Homo sapiens: one gene and its partners. The protein of the gene in region 1 interacts with the protein of each later gene in a biochemical or structural test. Each region holds a gene or a part of one and is shown in the gene's direction. Other genes may lie near its edges.

Region 1 (7,860 bases):
CCATTCTCTCCTACATAATACCTCCATAAACAGTTGGACATACCTAGGCTCTTAGGAGGATGATTTCTGGTAGATTTTTCCTCTTGTACAAGCATTTCTCAATTTCTACATATTCTATCTTTAACATTTTCCACCAGATGCTTTTAGCTGATGAATTTCTAAGGTTGTTACCTTCACAGGAGCTTTCCTGGTCTCTTCATGTTCAGTGGAGGCAACCTTCTTTCCTTGGCACTGTTACGGGCATCAGAGCCCTGCCTAGATAAGCAAATGACACATGAAGTGTGCATTATACCCACCCTTTTATATCACAACACACCAGAGGCCCTGAGCTACTAAGTGCTTTTTAATCACCCCAGATTTGCAAGAGTATGTCCTAATGACACTTCCTAAAGGGCATCATTACTTCTATAAAAATGTTTTCTCATAAAATATTTGCTTTAAAAAATGCCTGATAAATTCTGTCTTGGGCAATTACACCAACTTTTCACACCCTTAGAACCTGTGTCAGCAAATTGGGTCTTGCTTTTTTAATAGTCCTTCATGACAGCTCATTACTGGCGAGTTCTGTTCAGTGTACATCTCCCTTGTCTGACCCTAATGTTTGGTCTCATGTTGACACACTAGTTGAACTAAGTAGCAGACAGTGGTCACAAGAATTATAACATGTTTGAGCTCATGGTTGCTTTTGGCATCTTTGAAAAGGGAAGTAAAAATGGCCGATTATAATAAGCTAAGAATGAGTCAGTGACGTTGTCTGTAAGGAGATGAAAAAGTGGGTGAGAGTCGCATTTTAAGACCTCCGAGAACACTGAGTTTTAAAATACCCGGAAGATTTGGGAAATACACAACATTTAATAACTGTGTATGTGTTGCAGGGTAGGGGGTGTGGGGATCAGTATATTCAATACTAGCCAAGTCAGGATGTTCCATGCTGTTTAAATAGTGAGCTAAGCATGTTAAGCATTTTTAAGCAACAGCATGCAAAGGAAAAGAAATGTAATAGTTAAATGAATAAGCAAATAAATGGGATCTATCAGGTATATTTTGTAACAGAAAGATTTATGAAGTTGAAGAAAGTGCAAATTATTTTAGCACTTTAATCAAATTGATTCTAATGATATAAAATAGTTGAGTATTTGTGGGATTAACCTCATTGTTTTGGTTTTTTGCAAAATGAATTTCCAGGTTTAGGCATATGGCAGAACATTTTTGGTTTATGATGATTCTTTCTTGTTAAGAATCAGAAGAACCTCCAAACAGCGCTATTTATTTTTGGGATGGAGATGTTATATAAAAGAATGAATACAATGGCGGAGAATCAAGGAAATGAGAAAATTAGAATAAGATTATGGGGCTATGTGTGCCACCTGCTGATGAAGCTGTGGAATGCTTTGGTTTTGAGACTATATTGGAATCTTTGAGCCAATCTTAAGGTTTTGTTTGTCCATACACCACAACCCACCCCCTTCTTATGATAAAATTAGTACCATATTGTCAATGGAGGTGATATTCCAAATATTTCAAAACCAGCATGACACAGGCCAGTCAGGATGGGCTAACCATGCAGTGAGAAGGGATTCCTGTAAACACTTGATACGTAATGGTCTTTCACCAGACGGTACTTGCCTTAACTGTCACCTGTTTCTGGTTCCTTCTGGTCAGGGTGGTCCTAGAACCATGAGCTGTGCTTCAGAGGGGAGAAGGTGATAGGCACTAGTTTTTCCCTCTGTCAAAAGATAACTGCACTTAAAGGTACTTTGTTAATTGAATTTGTCCCCCTGTAAACTAGATCACATTTTGTATTGGTGGCAAGGAAGCAGTGAAAAACAAGAGGAGAAAGAATGATTAGCCAGGGGTGAGAAGCTATGGTTCTTTCCTGTTCTTTACCACTTACTAGCTGAATGACTTTGATGAAAAACACCTTCTCTGAAACCAGTTTTCCTTTTCTGCATCAAAAACCTATAACAGAGTCGCTCCATGATACATTATGTGTGAAAGTGCCTTCTAATTCATTAAATTCTATGTAAACGTGGTACACTTGTATTACACCTTAGCAAAACTAATGTTTTAAAGAAACCCTGAAATAAGAATTATCATCTTAAGGGACTAGTCTGCCCTGAATCCAGCAAACCCATGTTTTCATGTATTGAGGTGTTTGTGTTTTTAAGAGGGGTAAACCTCTTGAACTAGCTCACTCACTCTTCTTCAGATCACATTGGGGCTTAATCAAATCTGTATTTTGTACAATTTTACCTGCCTTCTTTTTCCATAACCCCTACTTGGTGACCCTCACAGAGCATGTTGTAAAGTTTGAACTGTCTAGACAGCTGAGCCACCATAATTAACATGTTCATGACAGGTCCCAAAGACACATGCTTACATTGATCTGGTAGCCAAGAAATGTAGGTCACTCTGCCTTGTAGTAGCTCATGTTAGGAGCCTGTGGTCCACATTCCACCGGTTGCCTTGGCCATTTGAGACCTTCATCCTACAGATCGATACATTTTGAGATAGAAGGCTTGCATTGTTGGAAGGCATTTTACCAGTGCTAGAGTTCAGGATGGGAGGCTAAGCTTGCATTAGGCAAAGGGAGGACAAAGGGTTTAGGGCAAGAAGGTTGACCTGGGAGTGGCTCCCCAGGAAATCTCCAAGCATTAGCGAGGCCAGAAATGGAAGAAGATGGGAATACCTGGTGAATTCGTTCATTTTCTGGAAAAGAATTACTCCAGGAGGCTCCATTTCTGTAAGATTCCTGGGGCTGCACCTGGGCAGACTAATAGGATAGATATGGATTGGCAGCCACAGTATTCAAAGAGAGAAAAAACAATCCCCTAGTTTGGGCTCTCAGAAACCTTTCAAAGAGCTCCATGATGGGTTATTTCCCCTGCCAAAGAAATAGGACATTTTAGTAGTTCTGAAGACCTTTCTTGGGACCAGAGGATAGAGCTTTTAAAACAAAACAAAAAAAATAAGCATATTAGGAAAAGGGGAAAATATTTGATCATTTTAGTCATAAGGAAAAAGCAAATTGGATTTGAGTCTGCAAAATAGCAGAAGGCAAGAGATTCCTGTATGGTTTTGAGTTGTATTTGAATAGACTGGGCTGGGGTGGTGGTGTTCCACAGGCAAGATTCTACTAATAGTAATTGACAGCTGCGTATTCTGAGTGCCTGGATTTTAGGAAATATGTTAGATTTGGAGAAGAATCTTGGAAAGAGCTAACTGTAAGTATTTATCTCACTTTAGCTAGTAACTCAGTTCTCTAGTACTAAGGTATATTTCTATTTAAAGCAAAAAAATATCAAGGAGGCTAAACTATTTCTAGGGATAACCTAATAGAGATGAACATAATATGGGTTGAAATTCAAAGAAAGATTTATGCTAATCAGAACAATTATAAAAATTTGATTTTGCACTGCAGTCCATTTAATATAGTATTTTCTATTGATTAGTGGTTGCTTTAGCTAGACCATCCTTGGTAAAAGAATTCTGTTCTTTTCAAAAACCTTTAAAGTAGATGCTTATGATATTCAGATGTTTTTCACACACAAATTATTTTTCTATTGGACTCAAAATACAAAGCATATGCATTTCAATAGCAGTGGATTGAAATTGTTTGAGTTCATATTGAATTTATGAATGAAGAAAAGAAAGTTTTACCACTAAATTTGGAATGTTGGAAGTTATTTTAAAAACCAGCTTGAAAGTTTTTTCACAGCCTGAAGAGTAGAGAATAAAACTGTATGAATAATTCATAAAGTCCTAGAAATATTAATCAAGTAGTTTAGACAGTGATATATCTTTTCATTTTGACTAATTGATTTTTTTTTTCTTAAACTTCCTGGCCAACTGTCTAATTTTTTGTCCTGAATGTTTATGTTAACTCCTGTGGGAGAATTCTGGATTTTGATTAAAATTCCCTACCAAATGTTAGTTCGTATTGACTATATGGCGAGCAGGCTGCTGCTGGCAGATGAGGAGGTGTGCTCCGCCTTCTTATCACTTTGTGAATGGATTGTGAAGGGTTTGTTAATTTGCTCTTCACTCCATTGGAGCAGATACTCACAAATATCTGCTATGTCGCAAGACCGTTTTATTTGCATAATGAGAAGAATGGTTTGGGGGATGGTTGTTTGGGAAATAGTATAATAAAGTATATTAAAAATAGAAATACTTGGCCTTGTTTGCCTTTATTTCTGGTATCTTTAGAAACAGTCTTGACTGTGTTGCTTTCCAGCCAAGTCCTTTTTTGGAAGGGTGATTAAAGGGGCTGGGACTCCATCTGCCTGATTGTCTGCCTAGCCCTAACCCTTTCTTGTATTCCCTCTATAAACAGACACTGCCTTAACTCTCATAGGTTCAGGAAGTACCAAAGAGGTCTCTGTCCTAGAGCTGCTTCCCCGCTATAGGCAGAACTGTGATTCTTTCCTCAATCCCAAATATAAACGGCCCTCCCTCTTTTTCTTTCCTTTTTTTTTTTTTTTTTTTTGGTTGTTGTTTAAAGAACATAGTACATGACCCATGCATTTCTTCCTAAAGTAAGAGTGTAAGCATTTCACTTGCATTTCCCATTAAATGAGACATATAAAGGACACTGACTTGATGCTGAGAAGGAAAGGGGCTGATGGTGGCTGAACTGACTGGATACATCGCCTTTTGCCTTAAACAGAATGCACTGTTCAGTGCTTAGCGTTAGATTTATGGAATGGCTCCTCACACAGTGTCGTCCCTGCTTTGTACAATTTGGTGCTTTGTTGCTATCGAAACGGCATTACTTTCTAAGCCATTGTGATTGTGAAGGGGGAGGAGGCTGTGGCAGGCAGGGGTGGTAGTAGTAGTGAATGACACAGATTTGCCAGATGACATGTAGCGGACCTCTGCATCAGCCAAGAGGAATTAAGCTTTGTCACTCCCCACTGGGACTACCTTTCTCCTGGTATGTGCGCAAGGAATTCATATGCTGCTGCTGCTGCAGCCACCAGAGCAGAGAGCCTTGAGTACACTTTGCCACAGAAAGCAGTGAGCAAGAATGATAGCTGTCTCTTTTAAATGCCGTTGTCAAATTCTGAGGCGACTTACTAAAGGTATCGTGCTTTCCTTGTTATTCCCTCAGCGAGTCTGTTGCAGTATCCTATAAACACAGTTTAATGGTTTTTACTTTCAAATATGACTGCCTTTGCAATTTATTGTCAGGCAACAAAGAACTCAGTGAAATATGTATAGATACATATGTACAGGTAGACTCGGCTTTGCTTTCTGTCCTTACATCTCGGTTGTGTTCGTGCTGAAATTATGAAAGCAGCTTGTGTGATTTTTTTTTTAATGACTTCATTCTTTGCTGAAAAGAGAATGTGTTTGGGTCCGGTGCTGAAGTTATTGTGGGAAACCGTCATTTTGCATGCTGATTAACTGGCCAAAAGGAGTCAAGTGTGTGTTACTGTCCTTTCTATGATACATATACTAAATGCAGCTGGCAGATTCAGGACTCGCACAGCTGGTGGATCCACAGAATAATTGTTTGTTCTATGACTTTCCAACATCTTAAGAGCTTTTTCCCTGGACAGCTTTAATTTCTTTATGTGTTAGAATTGCATGTTCAGAAAAGTATGTAATTCCAAATGCTTTGGTCCTATGTAATACTAGAAGTTTATTTGAAAGTAAAAATCATTGCTCGGAATCTTATCATCAAGAATTACCAGCTTCAGATTGTCACTCTTAGAACTCTAAAATAGTAATTAAATTTCTCTGTAATATTTAAGGTATTATTTTATTTGAAACCATTCTGGATGTGCCATCTCGTTTACTTTGTGAGCATTCTATTGCAAAGTTAGTAAATGGATGCCTTAAAAATCCTGCCTTGTGTCCATATAGATATGTGAGCTCTCTTGCCTTATTTCCTTTAGATAGAACCTTCCTTAGAGAAAATTTATTATTTAAAAAAAAACTTCATTCTGAGTAAAAGTATTTAGTTGCAAATGCCTTTCTTTTTCAGCCTGTAATATAGAGTACTGTTGAGTAATTAATGGATATAATTATGTTCTAGAAGCTCTGAACCTATAAATATGTTAATGGATGCTATTTCTGTCAGTTTAGCTTGACATATCAGAATTCTTTGATCACCAGCAGTGCAGCTAAAAATGCAATTAATATTTTATCTGGCAGAAGAATGAGCACAAAGCAAATCATGAGAAATAGATCTTGAGTCAATAACAGGAAAGAGAATAAATACTGTAGACCAACTTACCGAATGCATTTGCAAGTTGTTTGGATAGCAGAGTGAGTCCTTTAAAAGGTACTTTGGGGGAAATGTAGGGAAGATTATACATTTTAAATTAGGCTATTAGCAGGAGGCTGTAAATTCTGTTTTGACTTTATCCTCTACAATTGGTACAGACGTACAATTTCTGTTTATAAATCATGACTAAGAGACTATCCTTTCTGTTACGGTTTTGGCTGAGACTTTTAAAGGCAGGCCCTTATTCTGAAAAGTTCTTTTCTGACCTGATTTTGGCATTTACTTATCTTGATGTTGAGAAGTTGATGGTCTTCTTACATCATAAACATGAAACAATCAGTATTTTCTATTCATCTGTATCAGTTCTTTTATAAGTACTACATACAAGGAAGAGAGTGAACCCAAGCAATTTATAGTTCTTACAAATATTTTTAACTTTCTCAGTTTTCTGAATTTTATGGAAGCATTGATCTCCTGCATTGAAAGGAGATTTAAGTGTTTACTAAGATAGTCGCTAAAAATCTAGATAATTGAGGAAAGTATTGATAACTGCTTTGGAGTTGCTACCTCACACTTTTTTCCAAAATCTTTATGTCTGCTCTATTTGGTATTTAACTTAAGACTGTCAGTTGATGATTAAAATAAAATCTCTTTGCAGAATCAATTTGCCATAATTGGGTTCTTCTTTGTGTTTAACTGGCTGTCCAAATACTTACAAGAATGCACCTGAGTAACACGGTACCTTGCCTTGCCATCTGCTTCAGTCTTGTCCAACAACGTTCAAGTTCCACCCATGCTTCTTGTTCCAAAGTGGATTCATTGAGTTCTAGCACCCCACCCATACTTGTGGTGCTGTTTTCTTAAGCTGTAATGATAAAACCAGGAAACATATGTAATTACAATATTAAAATGACCTTTCTTTTAGGGTCAGGAGTGTATTTGGGGACAGGGGTGGATATACACTTGAAGTTTCTTTCTTGTCCCATTCTCCCTACTCACACAACTCCCACACCCTCACCCTCAACTCCCAAACATACATATTTCTTTATACCCATTGAGGGCTCCACCTAACACTCACTCTTCCAGACATTTAGCACAAGGCATTACACTTAGTAGGCACTTCAAAACTGTTTGTTAAAATGAATTGGATTTGTCTAGTTGAAAGTAGTAGGGCATTTAAATCTTCTGTGAGCTCTTAGGAAATGCTTCAAGAGCTTTATTAGGCCTCTTGTGGCTAAAACCTTACCCAGATCTTAGCAGGGGGAAGTTTGCTTCATGACTCCAAAACTACCTTGCTATTTGTGGTTGATATCACCCACAAGAAAAAGCAATATGGCAATTGCAATTTCTTCTTAATTTTCTTAAGGAGAAAATGATGGAATAAAAGGGAAACAATTTTCTACAAACACCCACATTCTTGATATTTTTACTTGATTCTTACATTCTTCATATATCTAATACATACTTAACAAATATCGATTAAGTACCTACTATGTGCCAGACACTGACATTTTTGCACTTAGAATTCTGGGCTGGGACAATTTATAGGTGTAAAAAGCATTTTTAAAATGAATATATTATTGAACAATAAATATTTTTTCTTTAGGTCAGATGTAATTTTAAAA
Region 2 (7,025 bases), about 19 Mb from region 1:
GAGGACAGCCCCCGACACCCTAGCCTGCTCCCTGGTGTTATCAGCCAATTCTCGTCTTTTCCCTGGGGCGGCACTGCTCCCGGCCACCCTGTCCTGGGACCCAGCCCACCACTCGTGTGACTTCCCTTCACCCTTGACTTGTGACTGGCCTCACCTTTGGTTTTCCTGCCCCACCCCAACCTCAGACAGGGACAGGAAGGTCTGCCAACTCCTCTTCAGCTTCCCCTGGGGAAATTGGGGTTCATAGTGGAGCCAAGACTGGGCCTCACGTTTCCTCTTCCCTCTTCCTCCATATCTACAGCCTCCACATTTTGCTCATCCAGCTTCCCAGACCTCTGGGGACCACACTATCCCACAGAAAGTCTGGCTGTAAAGCAGGTAAGCAGCCAGGAAGGCAAGGGTAGGCAAACCTCGCCCACTCTGATAAAGGACATAGGTCACCTATAATCAGGTTCCGGGGAAATGAAAAGCAAAGTGGAGGCCAAAGCCAGGGAGAAGCTGCATTGCAGGAGACAGAGTCAGTTCCCAAAGACACTAGAGTTTGCCTCTTTGGTCTGGTCTGACTATTGGGGAAATGGTCCAGGGTGGGGAGAGGCTGTTCTTGCTCAATCCAAGTGACAGGCGTTGATGGCAGTGCCTGCATCCCGCTGTGGCGACATGTGGAAGAGAAACTGTCCTGCCTTCTGGGTCCTGGGTCCTCATGGTCCAGATGCAAAGGGTGGGATCCCCAGAGGTCCAGCCTGTGGGTGATCGGGCATAGGCGTGGAGGGAGCAGAGCCGCCACGATGACCATGTAGTGACTCTCAGTTACTCTGCCAGGAAGGAAGTCATTCTCACTGCCAACAAATGAAAAGTGCAAGTGAAGATCTCTTGGGAAGTCATGTCTTTGAAGTGACTTGTGGGCAAGGGGGGTAGGTGGTGAGACCGCCCCACCCCAAGGCTGGCTGGGAGAGGATGGGGGTGTCTGGTTGGTGAATAGCAGGAGTGGAAGGCAGAAGCAGTCAGTACTCTGTGAGTTGGAATGTGTGTCATGCTTTTGCAAACCTGCCCTGCAGGTCCTGTGCCAGGGAATAGACTAAGTGGTGTTCCCAGAACCAGATGCCATACAAAGTCCTCATTCTGCACAGGGGAGAGTCCTGGTCCTAAGCAGGGTGTGGGCAGCTGCACCGGCGGGAAAGCGGAGTCTGTGCAGACTCGGCAGTTGGTTCCTGAGAAGCTGCTGCCTCTCACTGGCCTTCTGATGACAACCTGGAGCTTGGAGGTGTTATGCAAGGTGGGACATTCCAGGCACTGTGGAATACCCATGAGGCCCGAGGCTTTGCTGGTGACACATCCAGTGTGTGCCACCTGCTGGTACTGGAGTTGTAGCTTCAGCTACTTACTGAGCACTCACTTGGTAACAGGTGCTGTGCTACGTGCCTCCCAGACCTATCACTAGGTCTTGTGAGGTAGGAACCAGTTATGTTCCCTTTACAAATGAGGAAATGGAGTCTCTGTGAGGTTAATCAACATGCCAAGCTGTCATAGCCTGTGAGGAGGAAACCCACGACTCCCTCTCAGGTTTGCAGAAGCCCATGCTCTTAACCTGCATGGAACTCTCCCACCTCTGCATTCATGGGATGGCCACAGGGCACTTAGTGCCCTGTCTTGTACATTATACACCCGCAGTAAATGTTTATGAGCTGAGAGGTTAGATGTACTAACTAGTTTGAACAAGTTGACCTGAGAACAGGCTTGGACTGCCCAAAGGTTACTCTGGGGACAGTGGCCTCTCAGAAGGAGGCTCCCTCTGCCAGCACTTTTAGATCTTCATGCCTCTCTGGCAGTCTTGGGCACCTTACTCTGGTTAAGAACAAGAACCCAACAGAGGTAGGATTGTGCAGAGAAATTGTGTGGAATCAAATATGACTCTAATAGTCTGGAAGGCAAATAGGAAACAATCTTTCAAACAGGCATCTTTATTGAAAACCTACTATGTGCTGATTGTCCCATTGGCCAATGGGGAGCTATTCTCACTTTGCCTACCTTTTCCCTCTCCTGGCTATCCCTTAAGGGCTCCTGAACCTAGCCCAGCTGGACGGAGAAATGGACTCTAGCCTCCTCTGATAGCCTCATGCCAGGCCCCGTGCACATTGCTTTGCTTGCCTCCCTCAATCCTCATAGCTTCTCTTTGGGGTAAGTACAGTTATGTTCTCTAGCAGGCATAGTGGGGAAACCAAGGTCTAAAGAGATGCAGCCACCTGCCCAAGGCTGCAGAGTCAGCCTGTAACCACTGCTTTACACGGCTTGCCAGCCCTGGGCCTGGCCATACAAACCGCTTTGTCAGAGCCTGGAGACAGAGGTCGCAGGAAGAGAAAATGCTCAGCCTGCCCCACCCCCTGTGGGTCTCAGGGTTCCTTGGTAGATGACTAAAATTTTAGGTAGTGCTGTTAGAAGCTAGTGGCCTGGCAGAACAGGAGAAACACAGGGTCTGAGTTAGACTCTTGGGTTCAAATCTTGGCGAGGTCGCTTTGTAGCTTGTGACCTTGGGCAAGTTATTTAATCTGTCCAAATCTCAGTGTCCTTACCTGTAAACTGGGTATAGTAATAGCTCCCTTGTAGGACTGTGTGAGGATTAGATGATGTAAGTCAAGTGCCTGGCACACAGTAGGCCCTTGAAAGGCATGTGTATTCAGTAGATATGGGCCAAGAGCCTACGGTGTGCCAGGTACTAGTCAAGACACTGGGAATTTAACAGTGGGGAAAAAAGAGACTCTTGCACTTCTTTTCAAAATTTCTAGCCCAGAAGCCTGTCCTTGTGAGAGGCCCGTTTAGAACTCAGGAATGGCTGTCCTGGCACCTGACTAAACTCAGATTTGGCAAATTGGTTTCTCTGTCATTTGTTAGCTGATGAGCTTGTGAAGGTTACTTAGCTTCTCTGCAACTTGGGTTCTTCAATTCTTTTTTGTTCATTTTTAAAAACCGCGATATATCACATACACAAGATTATATGTTTATGTATAGATTAAAGAATCCTATACCCTGTACCTACCACCTAAGTTAAGAGTGGAGCATTCACAGCACCTTAAAAGCCCCCTCTGCCTCTCCCCATTTGCATTCCCCTTCCTTACTCCCCACCCCAAAGTGAATTTTGGTTAATTGTTTCCTTGCTTTTCTTTGTAAGTTATCATCTATGTAGATTTTACAAAACACTATGTTGTTTCATTTCACATGGCTTTGAAGTTCGCATACCTGTGTGTTCTCTGTGATGCACTCTTCTTTGAGTCAATATGAGTTTTCTGAGGTTCATCCATGTCGATGCACACCACTGCAGTTCATGAGTTTGCACTGCTGTGTAGAATTCCATTGGAAAAATACACCACGATTTGTATATCCTCCTCTCACTGATGGACATTTGGGTTGTTTCCAGTTGAGCTATTACGATAGGACAGTACTGCTAGGGGTGTACATGTTATACTTGTCTTCTGGTTCATGAGAAACTCACAAGAATTTCTGTAGGGCACATACCTAGGGTTGGAATTGCTGCCTCCCATGGAATTCTATGTTCAGCATTGCTATAGGGTGCCAAACAGCTTTCCAAAGTGGTTGTCCCAAAAAACACTTCCAGCAGTGGATGAAAGTCTCCATTGTTCTCCATCCTTTTCAACACTTGATACAGGCTTCATTTCTAAAATGAAAAAGTTGCATTAGATGAGTTTCTACAGTTATAATGATTAGCTATAATAGTTGTATTATTCATGACCTAGGGACCCAATTTCTGGCTCATGTGTGTGCCTGTCTGCTGCACTCTGTACAGGTGACCACATACATGTCACAGCCTGAGACATGTCTCAGAGAGAGCTCTGTGCTGGGCCTCTAAGTACAGTTGAAGCCCTTCCTCTCTGGGCTTCCACCAGCAGTGCTTGAGGGATCCCACGGTTCTACATCCTCCCAAACACTTGGTGGTCTCCTCAGTTCAACCAAGAGCCTGGTGTCAGCAGTGAGCCCATACTATGTGCTCAATTAATACCTGGGGAGGAATATATATTTTCCTTGGGCATCAGTTTTGAGAAAAGGACATGGAAGTATAAGAACCATGAGTTTGCTGGCTAATCAAAGCACACAGGGCTGGGGCAGTGATGGATTCATGTCTGTCCTGGGCTTCTTGATCATTTAAGGGCTCCAGTGAGATGGGGTGAAGTTTAGTAGTCTCTACTGGCCATCTCTTCAGAGTCTGGCCTTGTTCTTTGGCCTTTTGACTTGTTTAACCTGAGAAGCAAGGGGTAGCTGGAGGATTGGAGTGGAGGGAACAGAGGCGATGCCATGGGGAAAGGAGCCAAATGCCTGTAGAGAATCCCTTTCCCTTTGAAGGTCGAATACCCTGCTAGGACTACTGGGGAAAAGAGGTGTTAACTACACTCACCATCCTGGTAGCCACATAAACAGCCAGATATTCACCACCCATCCACCCATGGGACAAAGGAATGTGGCTGGCTGGACAGTTGCATGGGCCACCTCAGCTCTCAACTTTGTAATTACCTATCCAGTCTGTGCCTGTCAGCTCCGGGCAGGCAGGTGCTTCTGCCCTGGGCCTCACTTTGGCTCCCAGGCCTGTGCTGGGATCAGGGACAGGGCTCTACCTTCTCCAGCCATCCCCTCACCCCAATTCCACCCAGTGTCTCTTTCTATACCAACCTTTGACCCTTGTGAGGTTACCATATTATGTAATAGCTGACAATCATAATAACCAATGGTTACTATAACTCACTATGTTCCAGGTACTATGTTCAGTGCTTTTCATGCATTTTCTCATTTATGCCTCTCAATAATCCTACGAGGCTGGTAAAATTATACCCATTTTATAGAAGAGGAAACCAAGGTTCATAGAGATTAAGAGGCTAAATTCCTTGCCCAAAGACATTGAGCTACTAAATCAGAACCAGAATTTAAATTCAGGCTTAAGTCCAGAGTGCATGTTCTCTTCCTCACTTGTGCATTGCCTTTCCTGCAGTGTCCTGGTCATTCAGCTCAGTCTTCCCTCCTCCCCTTCCTGTCTAGGAGGGCTGGAAAAAACGCAGCAGGTGGTACGAGGGTGAATGGGGCAGTTCCAATCTGGCCAGGGAGATGCTGGAAAACACCTTCGGGGCAGAGTTCTTTGTTCCAAACGGCTCTGAATTTCCGGACTTCTGCCAGGGGCAGGAAGTGACTTCTGCCCAGCCTCTTTGGCAAGCACACCCATATCTTGGGTGCCATGATGTTAAGAAGTGGGGGAGGGGCTGCCTCAGGTAAAATTCCATTATAATGAACTCCATTTGAGGTCTGACCGGCTTTGTTGAAACCACGTGCACAGCCTGGGAAACTGGAAATGGAGTGGAACTAATTCGAGGTTGGGTGTCTTTTAGCAAAGCCCCCCGAAGGTTTGGAGCCTAGAAGGAGAAGGAGAAAAGAGTCAGACCCACCCCCAGGTCCTCCTGAATGCCAAGCTCCTGCGTGGTCCTGGGCAGGGCTTGTGGGGAGAGCTCTGTGCGTAACTCCACCTGTCAGTGCTGTCATCGTCCATTCCCCCCACTCTACTCCGAGCCCCGAGAACAGATCTGAATCCTGTCTCTGAAGTGCCCCTGCTCCACACAATAACTAACATGTCACAGATATACTCACTAGATGGTTTTGTCTGTAGACCAGGTGCCTGAGCAAGAAAGGAGGGTTGAAGGGCAATTGCTTTGTGTCATTAAATCATCTTCAAAAACTGGGCTGCAACTCAGATGAATTCTCCTTAGTCATTGCAGTAATTGTGCGCAATAATAAGCACTAACGTTTACTGAGCAGGTACTACGTGCCAGGCACTATGCTGAGCACTTGACGTGATTATCTCATGGACTCCTCACAGACTATGCAGTAGGTGGTGTTATTTTTCTCATTTCACAGGTGAGGAAGCAGAAGCTTAGAGAGTGCATTTCATTGGTTCTTGTTGCACAGCTAGTGGTAGGGAGAATTCAGGGTTGGGCACACCCAGGCCAGCTGCCTCCAGAGCCTGCACTTCTAACCGTGAGCTCTGCTGTCAGTGTGTGCTGGTCAGGGGGCCAGGGCCAGGTGGGTCATGAGTGAGGCTGGAGGGATGCAGACCCGGTGAGATGGACTGGAGAGCACACGCTGGTTGATGGGAGCAGCCCCTCTCGGCCCAGCAGGCTTCCGGCAGGAGCTTCAGCCTGGTGTGGCCAGATTATCTGACTTTTTCATAGAAAGCTGGACATTCAGATTTTTTTTCAAAAATGTAAACTCTTGATTTCTAAAACATTGACAGCCAATTTAAAAAAAATGAAATGTGTAATCACTGTTGGTGTTGGGGAAGGACGGGTGGCAAACAGCAAACATCACAGTCAGGTCTGCCCTGCAGGCTCCACTGCATCCTCTGGTAGTTTTTTTTTAACAGGTAACTGTTATAGAGTGGGATAGGAAAAACCCTGTTCCTGTAGAATTCCTTACTAACGTACTAGAAGGTACCCCTCCCAGAATGTGATAATAGCTTTATAATACAGAGTGTTTCTTCCTTGTGAGTTAGAAAGAAAGCTTTCAGAGTAAGATATTCCAAGAATACCTTCCCCTCCTTTCCTTTCTCCCCTCCTCCTTCTCTCCCTCCCATACTCTGTCTTCTCAGGAAGGTATTTCCTCATAGGTATTAGAAGAAAAGTTGTGTGAGAAAAATCAAAAGGAAACTAACAGAGGATAGGGTCTTAAGGCACAAAAAAAAGGAGAAAGTTTGGGGATGGGCTTGGTAGACAACGAATGAATGGATCATGCTCCATGCAATCGTTCAAGGTGTTTTTTCACAGCCTTCCCCTTTTTACCTGAATTTATTCCTCCTCCTCTCCTATTCTTAAATGCCTGGAAAAATAATAGTAATGCAATAGCTAGTATTTTTATAGAGTGTAATTTTAGAGTGTAACAATTTTTATAACACATTTGAAATATTTATCTCAGCTGACACAACAGTCTTATAGAATCTCCTTTTGGAGGCTTGGTAAAGTCGCAGTGTTTTCTCCTTCTTC
Region 3 (7,003 bases), on another chromosome or scaffold:
CAGGCCACTGACTACCCTACCCAAAGCCTCTGGTTGTCTGCATTTCTCCTTCAGCCTTCTACTACCACCCTTTATGTGAATTATAAAATGGTGGCACCTCCAGGTTGATGAAGTATAGACAGGTGCCCTCCCACCATGTTGATACAGCCCTATGCACAAGCCTGGGCAAGCAGCTCCTTCTCACCTCTCAGCCAGGAGCCTTTGTGCAGACCACAACCTACAAGGTGACATTACCACAGCCCTGTGCCCTTCACAGACTGTCTACTGGAATCACAGATTCTCCACCAAGTACTTCTGGGTAGGGGCTAAGAAAACACGTCTCCTGCTCTGTGCTCACTCTACCCAAATAGAGTACACAGGAAACCCATCCCTTTTGCCTGACATAAGGGCAAGTGCAGTCACTTGCCCTATTTTATTTTAGTCCTCTGAAAGACAGATTCAGACACAGTGTTTTATATTTCTCTGCTGTGAAGCAGTTCACTACATCACCCTAACTCCAACGGAACATAGCAATGGTTTTCCTATAGCAGCAGCACACTTCATTAGAGTTGAAGCAAGGAGAAAGTATATAAACCCTCACCCTGGGCTTGCATATTTAAAAGAACACCAAAAACTCTCTATGCTTGTATTCCCTACCTTTCTTTTAACTCTCTTATATTCCACATGGATTAGGGATACTCCACTCGAATCCAGCACAGGGGGTGTGACAACTCTTACTTTGGAATATGGAGTAATTGGCTCCTCTTTGCATGGAGGCTTCAGTCAAAAGCAAGACTAGAATACATTTATTTTTATATATTGCAACAGTAATTAAAATAAGAATTTACAGATGTTCTAAGGAGAAACGTATTTTTGAAAGAAGTTGAAAAGTGAATGAGGGATGCTTATTAGCAAATTAAAGAGAATTTTAGTATTATATATTTACAAGGACATATGTACTTTAAGTCCCCAGAATAGATCAGTCAATCCTATTCTTTAAAAAATTATACAGAGGAATTTACAGTCACAGGGCAGATGAAGCAAGTAAAGGCTGAAGCAAGAGGTATGGCCAGATGACTAGAAGGTTTAGGTAGCCATATAATTTAATGCCCAAACCTGACACTTTGAGAAATAAAATGAAGACTATGAATACATTCAGACAACAGATGTAAACCAGAACTGTTCTGCATAAATTGGATGCCTGATTACCCTATGTGACCAAAATAACAGTTCATTCCTGACTGGTAGTAGAAGGCAACAATGAAATTGATCTCTGAAGAAAAACAGAGGTTTGCTTCAAAGAGAACAGTGCATTTCTGACTGGTAGTAGAAACCAACAAAGAAATTGATCTCTGAAGCAAAATGGAGGTTTGCTTCAAAGAGAATGCTAGTGAGAGTAAACTATGGATCAGCATGGGGACATGGAAGCCATTTTATTTGTAATTAATGATGACAGTACTTCCATTTTCAACGTTTATTCTGGATGAAAGATGGGACACTTTACAGGCCATATTTATTTGTTTTTTGTTTTTGTTTGAGGTGGAGTTTCACTCTTATTGCCCAGGCTGGAGTGCAGTGGTGTGATCTTGGCTCACTGCAACCTCTACCTCCTGGGTTCAAGTGATTCTCCTGCCTCAGCCTCCCTAGTAGCTGGGATTACAGGCACCCACCACATGTTCAGCTAATTTTTTGTATTTTTAGTAGAGAGGGGTTTTCACCATGTTTGCCAGGCTGGTCTCAACCTCCTGGCCTCAGGTGATCCACCCACCTCAGCTTCCCAAAGTGTTGGGATTACAGGCGTAAGCCACCGCCCCCAGCCTACAGGCCATATTTAAAAAATCACTGTAAAGAAGTCCAAGTGTTAATGGTAAAGACTCCTAAGAAAAAACATCATGATTTAGTTACTCAAACAAATATAGATGAATTAGTGAAATTTAGATAAACTAATAAAAATATGAGCTACAAGGAGTGATCTAGATGCCCAAATACATGTGTTTCACTTGAAAAATATTTGAGAAACTTGATACATCAGATGTAATTAAGAAAAGGAACTAGGATTGTTTAGAAATGGAGCCCAGCTAGAATACTTGGGGAGGGTGTGAAGAGAGGGATAATGTAATCTCTTAATTGACATGTTACTTAGTCAGAGGTTTTTATTTAGACCTATCCCTTGAGGCTTTTAAAAGTAACTCGAAAACACACACACACACACACACACACACACACACACACACACACACCAACAAATAAACATTAAAAGCCAATCTATATTCCCGATCAATGACGAATTTAAACAGTGAAGACTAATTGCTTTCAATTAAATATGCTCAACAATTAAAATACCATCAGTTAACTATTATATAAACCAGGGATTTTTAATAGTAACTAATATTTATATGCTTCTTACATGGATTTACTAATCCTCAAAATAATTCTGAGGTATGAGCAATTGTTATTCCCATTTTACAGATGATGAAACTGACATATAGGCAGGTTAAGAAACTTGCCCAAGTTCACGCAGCTAGGAAGTGATGAAAATTCAGGATTCACATTGAGGAATTCCTTTGTGTGTATGGCGTAACGTGGGAGAGGAAAGAAGTGTCTCATCAGGCAATATCTGATAACAGACTGATAATTTGCCTCAGCATTTCAGCCTCTACTCACCACAAGCCTTAGTTAACAGCTAGATACAGACTATGGAGTGCAGTTTATCAGCACTTTCCGTTGTGCAAACATCAGCTACTTTTGTGTGTGTGAGACAAAAACATCAGCTCTCTTCTACTTCTCTCAATCCCAGCTAATTCTGATAAGGTCTTGGAAGCGCAAAATGATGTCTTCTGGAACGTTCTGAAAGAGACCAAAATCTACCCACACAGCTTCATGAGGATCTGAAGCCTTGCAGTGTATAAATCTTTATCTTTCTCATGTTCATGTCATTGCCCCTTGATATACAGTTGTCTATTGGGCAGACATTGTTAAAAGTAAATAAATTCTTAAAATTAAAATTAAATTCCTATAAAGATCTTTTTTTGGTGAACAATTCATGCTGGAAAATACTAATGAAACACAAAGGAAGAGGAATTTTGCTTGTACGTGGTCAATGCTATTGCATTCCAGAAAGAATACGTTGAAAGGGGGACTTCTAAAATTTTAGCATTTCACTATATAATAACACTTTATTTTTTAATATATTCAAATTTCTGGATCTAGTGGAGTTCACAATGAAATATATATATATATATATATATATATATATATATGCACATGTGTCTTTTAAATATTGCTGTCCCTCTAAAAGAATCAGTAGGTAAAATTATTTCTGTAGTTTAAAAGTTCTGGCTAGGTTACAAAAGACAGCAATTGTTAAACAACTTAACATTAAATATTAAAGACTAAATGTAGCATTTAAAGCATTAAGTTTAATTGTGTCTGGCTTCATATAATTCAGTCCTTGGTTAATACAAAGTTAGTATATTAGAGTACAAAAATTAATGAAGTTTCAATTTGGAAATTAAACAGTATGTGTTTCTAGACATAGAAAGATGCCTGGAATTTTACCTTTAGGATTTTATCTGTAGCTGGCAGCCTATTAAAGCTGTTTCCGCGTGCCTTTTTCTCTTTTGTGCCTACGTCACCGATTTAAGGTTCCTATTTATTTATTTATTTTTAAGAAGAAAGAAGAGGTTCTGTAGGAAACATTGACTGTATCCGACAACCATAGCAGGACTAGAGAAGGACCAATGAGGGGGTGCTGGGGGTAGCTTTAAGAGGCGAGGTGGTAGCAGAAAAGGATAAGAAGAAAGATAATTCAGCAGTCCCCTATAATCTTATTCCACCCAAGAAATTTGGGAGAATGCGAAAAAGCAGCAGCCCAGCATTCCCGGATGGGCGTGGCTTTTCTCCAGGGGCTGTCCAATTGAATTCCTTCAGAGGGAGAAGATTGATAAGGGTTGCTAGGAAACAGGAGCGTCTGCCTCCCGCCTGACCCAGAGATTGTTCTGCACAAACCCTCTCCAGGGGCTCGCAGTGTGCAGTTGAGTCGCGAGTACGGCTGAGCTGCGTACCGGCCTCCCTGGCTCTCACACTCCCTCTCTGCTCCCGCTCTCCTAATCTCCTCTGGCATGCGGTCAGCCCCCTGCCCAGGGACCACAGGAGAGTTCTTGTAAGGACTGTTAGTCCCTGCTTACCTGAAAGCCAAGCGCTCTAGCAGAGCTTTAAAGTTGGAGCCGCCACCCTCCCTACCGCCCCATGCCCCTTCACCCCACTCCGAAATTCACCGACCTTTGCATGCACTGCCTAAGGATTTCAGAGTGAGGCAAAGCAGTCGGCAAATCTACCCTGGCTTTTCGTATAAAAATCCTCTCGTCTAGGTACCCTGGCTCACTGAAGACTCTGCAGATATACCCTTATAAGAGGGAGGGTGGGGGAGGGAAAAGAACGAGAGAGGGAGGAAAGAATGAAAAGGAGAGGATGCCAGGAGGTCCGTGCTTCTGCCAAGAGTCCCAATTAGATGCGACGGCTTCAGCCTGGTCAAGGTGAAGGAAAGTTGCTTCCGCGCCTAGGAAGTGGGTTTGCCTGATAAGAGAAGGAGGAGGGGACTCGGCTGGGAAGAGCTCCCCTCCCCTCCGCGGAAGACCACTGGGTCCCCTCTTTCCCCAACCTCCTCCCTCTCTTCTACTCCACCCCTCCGTTTTCCCACTCCCCACTGACTCGGATGCCTGGATGTTCTGCCACCGGGCAGTGGTCCAGCGTGCAGCCGGGAGGGGGCAGGGGCAGGGGGCACTGTGACAGGAAGCTGCGCGCACAAGTTGGCCATTTCGAGGGCAAAATAAGTTCTCCCTTGGATTTGGAAAGGACAAAGCCAGTAAGCTACCTCTTTTGTGTCGGATGAGGAGGACCAACCATGAGCCAGAGCCCGGGTGCAGGCTCACCGCCGCCGCTGCCACCGCGGTCAGCTCCAGTTCCTGCCAGGAGTTGTCGGTGCGAGGTAAGGGTCCCAGAGGAGGACGTGTCCCTCTGGAGGGCGCCCAGCCAGGGCGCGGAAGCTCGGGTGCCGCGTGGGGCAGGCGCAGCCGGGAAAGTTGAGGTAGAGCATGGACCAGTCCCTACAGTCCTGACTGGAGTGGGAAGGGTGGAGGGCAGAGGCGATGTGGGTGTGCATGAGTGAGAGTTTGTGTGTGTGCGCCCACGTCTGTGTCTGGGAGGAGGGAGATTTCAGGGCATAGATCTGCGGCCAGGGTGCGAGAGGTGAAGGGACGAACTAGCACTCGCAGACCCCAGAGAGACCAGTCTCATCAGCCAACCACCTCCATCTCAGCTCTGGGCTCAGAATTTGTTTCTATTTGGGGGCTCCCTAAGGCTTTGTGCACAGGAATCCGTGGATACGGGCGGTTTCATGTGGGTGTGGAGGTTGCAGGCAGAGGTGGGCAACGGTCAGCGAGACCTGGTCCATGCAGCCCAGATAAGCTCCGAAGCCGGAGGCGGCCAGAGGTTTGCCCTCCCGCAAGCAGGGTTGGAAAGGAGCCTTAACTCACTGCCCTTTGCTCCTTTTGGCTTGAGTGAAAAATCGAAAAGCCAGACAGGGAGCATATCTTTTCATCGACCCTGTTCCATTTTCTTATCTGACAGTGAGATAACTCAGAGAGGGCGGGAGATTTGCGATCCAAAAATAGACTAGGTGATATATCCAATAAGCTTGTTTCTTAAGGATTTCATTTAAATTTCTTTCTAGTTATTCCTTGGGTTATCAAAGGTGGACAATTCTCTAAGGTACAACACTTTTAGGTAAATATATTAAGGAAGGATTCTCCCACTTTAAGTATTTTAGATATTGTAAATTTTGAAAAACAAAACTATACACCTCTAAAGATCTTTGGTTAAGGACTCAACTAATTTGCTTATAAAAATATTTCTACTATTTGAATAGTAATAGATATGTTTGGGGTCTATATGTAGGTACATATTGGAATATTCAAAGTTGAGGTTAATGTGAGTTGAGGTAGGTGTGAGTTAAGTACCAACAATAGTTCCTTAGAGTTTCTTTGCTTGAATTTCTTAGAACTGTCCAGCACAGCTACAGTATGTTTCTTTGTGGTGGGCGGGGGGGTGGGGGTGGGGGGGTGGGGGGGGGTGGGAGGGAGTTTAGGGGGTGGAGTCTGCTTTGGTTTATCTGATCACACACTTTAAGATTCCTCTCTGAATTCTAATTGTTTGCAGAAGTATATTCAATATAGGCATTACTAAAGTAATCTAGATTGCCACTATGCTAAACTATGGATAACAGTTCCTAACAAAGATGCTTAGGACACTCTAATGAATAAATATGATTCTATATTCCTACGTACCTTGTTTCTAAAATCAGCCCAATAGAATTTGAATATATTTGGAAGCTATTGTATGCCAGAAATTATTGTAATACTTTTCCTTTCACAATGGGTAGTGTTTTATATTTACAAAGATTTCTTACACCTGTAGACTTTAGCTGTCAATCTTATTGGGTTTTGATCACCCAGCAGGAGTACATAGATATTTTGAATATACATGCCCAAAGGCTATCTTATGTTCAGAGTAACACAGGAGCTCAGGATGGAAAATGAGGAAAGGAAGTCTTGAAACCTATACCTTAACAAATAAAACAATGAAATTCCAGAATATCTACCTTTATTAGATGAAAAAGAATATGGCAACAATACCTTTTAGCATTGAAACCCCTCCTGCCCCTAGATACTATATATCTAGGTATAAAACTGTGGTTTTATGAGTTAGGCCCTTACCAGTGAAATGTGAAACCTAAATCATAGAAAATTATGCCAGTACAATGAATAGGCCACACTTTGGAGCTTGAAACAGATGTCTTTCTATTTATTTAAATTGAATGGTATTTTTCAAACTTCAGGAATATATGATCAGTAACAAGAAAATGTGTGGAAAGCCACACACACAAAAAAATCTTATAATTAAAATATACTCTGTGACCTACTTATTTTTGCACAATGGGCTTTTTAAAAAGTTGTGGTATACATGT
Region 4 (7,025 bases), on another chromosome or scaffold:
GGTGGGTATCAGAGGTAGAACGGGCCACTTTTCTGTGCAATGCCCATGCTCTCCACACTACCAGCTTGCCTGGGTGCAGAGGCCCCGTTCTGCTGCTGGCCCTGCCCAATCCCCTGACTTATCTCCCTCTCTCTTCCCACCCTGGCTGCTTATCAGCTCCTGGGGGTGGGGCCAGGGGGCCTAGGGGTGAGGTCTCCTATGCAGCAGCCACGTGACAGAGGTTGAGGTCGTATGTTGGGGAGCTGTACCCTTTGTCCCCCTCCTACCCGCCACACCTGCCTGTGTGCACACAGACAGTAAGCCACAGGTCTGCAGCCCAGGGTCAGAGGTGCAATGCCGTAGGAATGGTGGGCCCGGCTTGGCACTGCCCTGGACTCCAGGTAGCAGAACAAGGCTAGCATTAGGGCCAGGCTGTGAGGCTTATCCCACAGCCACCTGCTTACTAGTTGTGTGAACTTGAGTGAATGACCAAGCTTTCTGAGACTCAGTTTCCTCATCTGTGAAGTTCTCGTGCCCTCTTTGGAGGGTACAGATTCTCTCTCCAGTTAATATGTGTTAGTTTCCTTTCCTTTCCCCCTTGCCATCCTGGTCGATAGCAGCTCAGCTAAACCAACTGAGAAGTCTGGTCCTCTGCCTGGGAAGTGGGATTCGAGACCTTGCGTGGGAAGCTCTGGAGTCCCTGAGGGGCCAGAGTTGGGGATCATAACTTGGCTGGCAGCATGGGAGGTCAGTTCCCTACAGCTTTCAACATCTCTCTCTATTAAGGCACAAAGATGGGCATTCATGCTCACTGCGTGCCGCTCTATGTCCCATCCTTCCTTCACAGATACCCTCCCTGCCTATGCTGAAAACTGCTTGTCTCTGGTCCCCTCTTGCCCCTATAATACAGATGAGTTTCAGGAAAGCTTTTCTAGAGGGGTGGTAACAATAGCTAGTGTTTAATAGTTGCTCATTAAGGGCCAGGCATTTGTCTGAATATGAAGACTGAGACATATTACTTAGTACATGAATGATCTCATTCTCTCCCTCCATTCCTTCCCATGTCTGGGGCTTAGGAGGTGGATCTCCAATCTCGCCTGCTGTACCTGTTATCTAAGGGATCATCCTGGTCCCCTCTCTATGCCTGCCCTTCCTGCCCCCTGCTGTCTTGTTATGGGATCCCAAAGCCCCAAATGTTGCCACCAAAGGGATCCTACCCACCTTCCTACCGTGACACCTTCTTACCCCTGCCTCTCTCTTCTCTCCACAGGGATCTCTGGACAGGACAAGACTCCGAAGCTACTCCCCCAGCACACAGCCCGGGACCCACAAACCCAGCTTGCCCCCAGCCCTCCCACCTGCCACTCCCTGGCCCCTCCCACCGCCCGCCCCCCTTGGGGCGCAGGGCATGGTGTGAAAGGCCAAGTGCTGAGGCGGGTATCATGGGTGCTGTGCCCTAGGGCCTGGGTGGCAGGGGGTGGGTGGCCTGTGGGTGTGCCGGGGGGGCCAGTGTGCCCACCCCAGTCTCTTGGCGTGCTGGAGGGCATCCTGGATGGAATTGAAGTGAATGGAACAGAAGCCAAGCAAGGTGGAGTGTGGGTCAGACCCAGAGGAGAACAGGTAATGGGTTCAGCAACTAGGTCATGCCAACTCCTAAGCAGCAGGCATGGGCACCTGGCTGAGCTCTCCTTTAGGCACCGCCTTTAAGCACCTCTGTGGGATGGACGTGAGGCCAGCAAGCCTTCTGCCTACCTTTGTCTGGCAGATGAAGTCATGTTCAGATGTGACAGGCACTTGGATTGAGAGATGCTCATTTTGAAGCGGGGAGCGATACAGAGCAATTACAGGGAGCACATAAGGGGCTCTTCCCTAGACATTGCTGGGCAGTCTCAGATGCCCCCAACGTCCCTTCCACCATTGCTGCCCTTACCTTGAGCATGTGGGATCCAAACAGCCTTGCCATTTTCTTCCTCTCCCTACCAGCCCATTTACTATCTGACCACAAGTGTGTTGTCCACAAGCTGCGGTTCACGTAATACATTTCAGGGCACATGCACCAGTAACTATTGGTCATAGCCCAAGCTTATATTCGGAATCTATTGGGAGCCCCACAAGCTCTTCCTTGTTCATGGTCAAGGGCGGGCACTGCGATGGGGCTCCTCCCAGAAAGTGCACGCCAACCATGATGGTTTTGCTTCCACATGGGTGAGGTGTCAGCCCTGCACATACACCAAGGGATGGTTACCTGTGATCTGCATTGCCCTTGAGGAGCCCAGAGGGTCTCTGTCTTTTCTATCAGCTCCAAGTGGCACAGAGCTTTGTCCCAGTTGGCACGGTGCCCTGGGAGCTGGGTACAGCCTGTGCCTATGGCCAGGGAGAGGGTGGGGGTGGGGGTGCTCCGGGGAGCAGTGTGGCTGACTGTTGCCTAGGAGATCAGATCCCGAGCCAGGAAGCCAGAGGCCTGGCCAGGCAAAGCCCTAAGGCCCACAACTGGGTCCCTGGAGGGTAGAGGAAGTAGATGGAACTCACAGCTGGGCAGGGCATGGGGTAGCTCCCCTCCCCCAAAGCCTCACCCCAGGAAGGACTCTGAGGACGATCTGGCCTGTCGCTGTGTGGCTGTCACTTGCAGCCCCTGTGTCTCCCAGCTTAGGCTTCTGTGGGTCTGGAAGAGTCTGTGCTTAATGTTTGGAGAAAGGCAGGAATGCCAGTTCCCAGTCTCCTAAGACTGCAACCCCTCCCCCATCACCTTCCCCTCCCCCATGTCTATGCGCCACCTTGTGGCTATCTCTAGGACTACACTCAGAGGCTGTGAGTCTGGTGGTAACTGCTGAAGCCGCTAGCTCAACTGGGGCCTAGGTGGGCTGAGTTCCCCTGCACCCAACCCTCTGGGAGGCGTGAGGGAGACCTGACCTTTCAGCCTCATAGGAAGTAGACCGGAGTAATCCCCACGGGGCGTGGAGCATAGGGTTGTCTGTGACTGTGACCCTGGCCAAGGTCACTGTGTCAGTGTGTTGGGAGCTGCATCCGGCTCCAGGAGGAAGGGGCCTGCAACATGCCACACGCAGGGTGGGTGCGGGAGGTTATACAATCCTTGCATGCATGTAGAGGGCTTATGTAACCTGTGTGCACCGAGGTTATGCAACATGTATGTGGAGAGCCTGGCAACATATATGTGCAGTGGCTGAGGGTTGCTAATAATACGCTGCACAGAGGGGCTCAGTCCCGGCTCTGACTCTAGCTCATGGTGTCACCAGGCACAAGCAGGGTCTCAGTTTGCTGCTCTGTTAAATGGAGGCTGTGCAGAGGGTGTAGTGTTTTCTATTGCTGTGGGTTATTTAGCATGTGTGTATGACCTGGAGCTCAAGCAACACGTGCACACTGGAGGGATGAGGGTGGTTTTATGAGGTGCCTGTGCAGAGTGTTGTGTAACACATGGGCATATCCTAGAGGTTGTATAGCACATTTAAGAATGCCCTGAAAATTTCACAGGTATGTTGGCCCTGGTGCATACTCACCATCCATGGGTTTATAGTGAAGGTTGCATGGTTATTCATCTGTGCCGGTGTTATGTTGCATATGTATGTGTGTGTTCTAAAGGCTACATAGCTTTAAGCATATCCTGAGAATTCTTCCAGCGTATTCGTCATGTACTGAAAGATGAGGATGTCCTGCAGATTATGGGTGCTTCAGGTCTTCTGGCGGGTGAATGTGTGTGTGTTGGGGCTCTAGAATATGCTTGTGCCACAGCCAAGCCCCTTATCTCTCTCCCCTGCAACTTCCAGATAACTGGACCCTTTTAAGCATTGTCAGCTGACCCTGGGGGGTGGGAGGTAGAATGAGGACACAAAATGGAAAGAATCAGGCCTTGGGGGATTGCATAAGCCTCTCGGATGAGAAAGGGGCTACTCGAAGACTGCTCTGTGATTCTGCCCACTTTGCCTCCATCCAGTGCCAGGTCACCAGATGGAAAGCGAAAAAGAAAGAACGGCCAATGTTCCCTGAAAACCAGCATGTCAGGTGAGGCTGGCTGTGCGTGCCCCTTCTCCACGTCCCCAACCCCACCAAACCCAGCCAGGGCTCCTCTGGACCTGGATGTGGAACAGTAATTCATGTGTTCCCTGGGGGGAGCCTCCTAGAGGGCTTGGGATGGACTTGTCTGGGGGTGAGAAAGGTAATGTGGGATGTGCCCAGCTTTTGAGGGTGGATTAGGTCAGGACGGCCTCTTCCCTCTTCCCCTAATACCCTCATCTGAGGCCCTACCAGAATCAGGGCCTGAGCTGAAGGACTGAGGGGCTGTATTATCCCCAGTGAGCAGCTGACGTTTATTTTTCCCTCTCCACCATCCTCTGCCTTGTAGATAGATCAAGAAGAAAGCCCTGAATGGGCAGTCAGAAGAACTGAGATTCTTCATACTCTTAGGGCAGAGATGGACAGGTTCACCTCGTGTCTCTCTAGGATTCTACCAGGGAGGCTGGGCTAGGAGAGGGGTCAGAAACAAAAAGTTGAGGGATGGGGAAAAGTGTGAGAGCCTCTCTGCTGGGACTCCAAGCCATGCCTGCCTTCCTCCATCCTTTCCTTCCTCCCAGGGTATATCCCTAGTTACCTGGACAAAGACGAGCAGTGTGTCGTGTGTGGGGACAAGGCAACTGGTTATCACTACCGCTGTATCACTTGTGAGGGCTGCAAGGTATGGAAGCTACCTCCTGCCCCTCCCCTGCCACCTGAGCCCCCATATTACTCCCTATGTCACCTAAAGCCCGCCTGTTAGGTCATCACTTTTTTTTTTTTTCTTTGAGACGGAGTCTCACTCTTGTCCCCCAGGCTGGAGTGCAGTGGCGCGATCATGGCTCACTGCAACCTCCGCCTTCAGGTTCAAGTGATTCCCCTACCTCGGCCTCCTGAGTAGCTGGGATTACAGGTATGCACCTCCACACCCAGCTAGTTTTTTTGTATTTTTAGTAGAGACGGGGTTTCACTATGTGGCCAGGCTGGTCTCGAACTCCTGACCTCAGGTGACCACCCGTCTCAGCCTCCTGAAGTGCTGGGATTACAGGCATACCTGCCTGGTTACTTTCTCTTCTCTTCTCTTATTCATTCATTTACTCATTCATAACTCCTCCTCTGCCACTCACAGGAAAATTGCCTAACTTCTTCGAGCCTTAGTTTCAGTTTCTTCATCTATAAAATGAGGATAATCATTCTCTCTACCTTATAGCATTGTTGGGAGAATTAAATATGTTGGGAGATAGTTCACTTGAAGTGTTTAAAACAGTGCCATTGGGTGCTGTGGCTCATGCCTAAAATCCCAGCCCTTTGGGAGGGAGGCCAAGGCGGGAGCATCCCTTGATCCCAGGAGTTTGAGACCAGCCTAGCTAACACAGTGAGACACTGTCTCTACAAAATTAAAGAAATTAGCTGGGTGTGGTGCCACATGCCTGTGGTCCCAGCTACTCAGGAGGCTGAGGTGGGAGACTGCTTGAACCCAGAAGGTCAGGGCTGCATTGAACGGTGGTGGCGCCACTGCACTCCGGCCTGGGTGACAGAGCAAGATTCTGTCTCAAAGTAAAATAATAAAATAAAATAAAAAATAGTGCCATGTGCATAAGAAGCATTTGATAAATGCCAGCCATCACCCATTCATTCAGTGTATTCTTAGGTGTGAGAGTGTAGTACGTACCTCGCCTTCAAGCTGCTCACAGCCTGTCAGAGAGAGAGACACAACTTGAAACAAACATCAGTGTTATTCAAAATGTGGTTCATGGACCACCTGTCCTACTAGTTAAAATGCAGATTCCCAGCCTTCATCTTTTTTTTTTTTTTTTTTTTTTGAGATGGCATCTCGCTCTGTTGCCCAGGTTGGAGTGCAATGGTGTGATCTCGGCTCACTGCAACCTTCGCCTCCCGGGTTCAAGCGATTCTCCTGCTTCAGCCTCCTGAGTGGCTGGGACTACAGGCACCTGCCACCACGCCCAGCTAACTTTTATATTTTTAATAGAGACAGGGTTTCACCATGTTGACCAGGATGGTCTTGATCTCTTGACCTCGTGATCCGCCCGCCTTGGCCTCCCAAAGTGCTGGGGTTACAGGTGTGAGCCACTGCGCCCAGCCTGCCCAGGCTTCATCTTAACCCTGCTCACTCAGAGCCCTTTTGTGGAGCCCAGGAATCTTCCTTTTAACAGAATCCCGGAGTGTTTCCCATGCACCTGAAAGAGCGAGAGCCAGTACTGGGGGGGTAGTGGGAGCTGGGAGCACAGAGGAGAAGAGGACAGCAGGTTCTTCCAGGCAGAGGGGATGACAAGGTCATAGATTTTGGGAGGCCTAATTGTTTTGTTTTGTTTTTTTTGAGATGGAGTCTCGCTCTGTTGCCCAGCCTGGAGTGCAGTGGTGCAATCTTGGCTCACTGCAACCTCCACCTCTCGGGTTCAAGCAATTCTCCCTGCTTCAGCATTGGTAGCTGGGATTACAGACACCTGCCACCAAGCCTGGCTAATTTTTGTATTTTTAGTAGAGATAGGGTTTCACCATGTTAGCCAGGCTGGTCTCGAACTCCTGACCTCAGGTGATCTGCCTGCCTCTGCATCCCAAAGTGCTTAAGAGGCCTAATTAGATTTCACTTTGATCATTTCAGCCTGGATAGCCTTTCCAGGATCACCTCCTAAAAATGCAAGGCCTTCCAAGAAACAGAATTATTTAAATCCCAGCACTTTGGGAGTCCAAGGCAGGCAGATCACCTGAGGTTACCACACCCGGTGGCACTGTTTTAAACACTTCAAGTGAATTGTCTCATTTAATTCTCCCAACAGTGCTATAAGGTAGATAAAATGATTATCCCCATTTTATAGATGAAGAAACTGAGACTCAGAGAAGTTAGGCAATTTTCTTGTGAGTGACAGAGGAGGGATTATGAATGAGCAAATGAACGAATGAGTAAGGTCAGGAATTTGAGACCATCCTGGCCAACATGGTAAAAGCCTGTCTCTACTAAAAATACCAAAATTGGCCAGGTGTAGTGATGTACGCCTGTAATCCCACCTACTTGGGAGGCT

Evidence for each region.
Region 2: the proteins of GRIP1 (region 1) and VDR form a complex in vitro, tested with the Homo sapiens proteins (one study listed by BioGRID).
Region 3: the proteins of GRIP1 (region 1) and GRM3 form a complex in vitro, tested with the Homo sapiens proteins (one study listed by BioGRID).
Region 4: the proteins of GRIP1 (region 1) and THRA form a complex in vitro, tested with the Homo sapiens proteins (2 studies listed by BioGRID).

The regions. Positions count from the first base shown.
Region 1 is NC_000012.12:66,676,074-66,683,933, reverse strand, and holds the start of GRIP1 (glutamate receptor-interacting protein 1), read left to right. Parts: upstream 1-4,857; 5' UTR 4,858-5,029; coding exon 5,030-5,084; intron 5,085-7,860. UniProt on the Homo sapiens protein: May play a role as a localized scaffold for the assembly of a multiprotein signaling complex and as mediator of the trafficking of its binding partners at specific subcellular location in neurons.
Region 2 is NC_000012.12:47,894,987-47,902,011, reverse strand, and holds part of VDR (vitamin D3 receptor), read left to right. Parts: intron 1-301; exon of another isoform or gene 302-378; intron 379-2,053; exon of another isoform or gene 2,054-2,175; intron 2,176-7,025.
Region 3 is NC_000007.14:86,639,907-86,646,909, forward strand, and holds the start of GRM3 (metabotropic glutamate receptor 3 isoform 1 precursor), read left to right. Parts: upstream 1-4,002; 5' UTR 4,003-4,966; intron 4,967-7,003. UniProt on the Homo sapiens protein: G-protein coupled receptor for glutamate. Ligand binding causes a conformation change that triggers signaling via guanine nucleotide-binding proteins (G proteins) and modulates the activity of down-stream effectors.
Region 4 is NC_000017.11:40,072,943-40,079,967, forward strand, and holds part of THRA (thyroid hormone receptor alpha), read left to right. Parts: exon of another isoform or gene 1-726; intron 727-1,249; 5' UTR 1,250-1,546; coding exon 1,547-1,599; intron 1,600-3,928; coding exon 3,929-3,996; intron 3,997-4,565; coding exon 4,566-4,666; intron 4,667-7,025.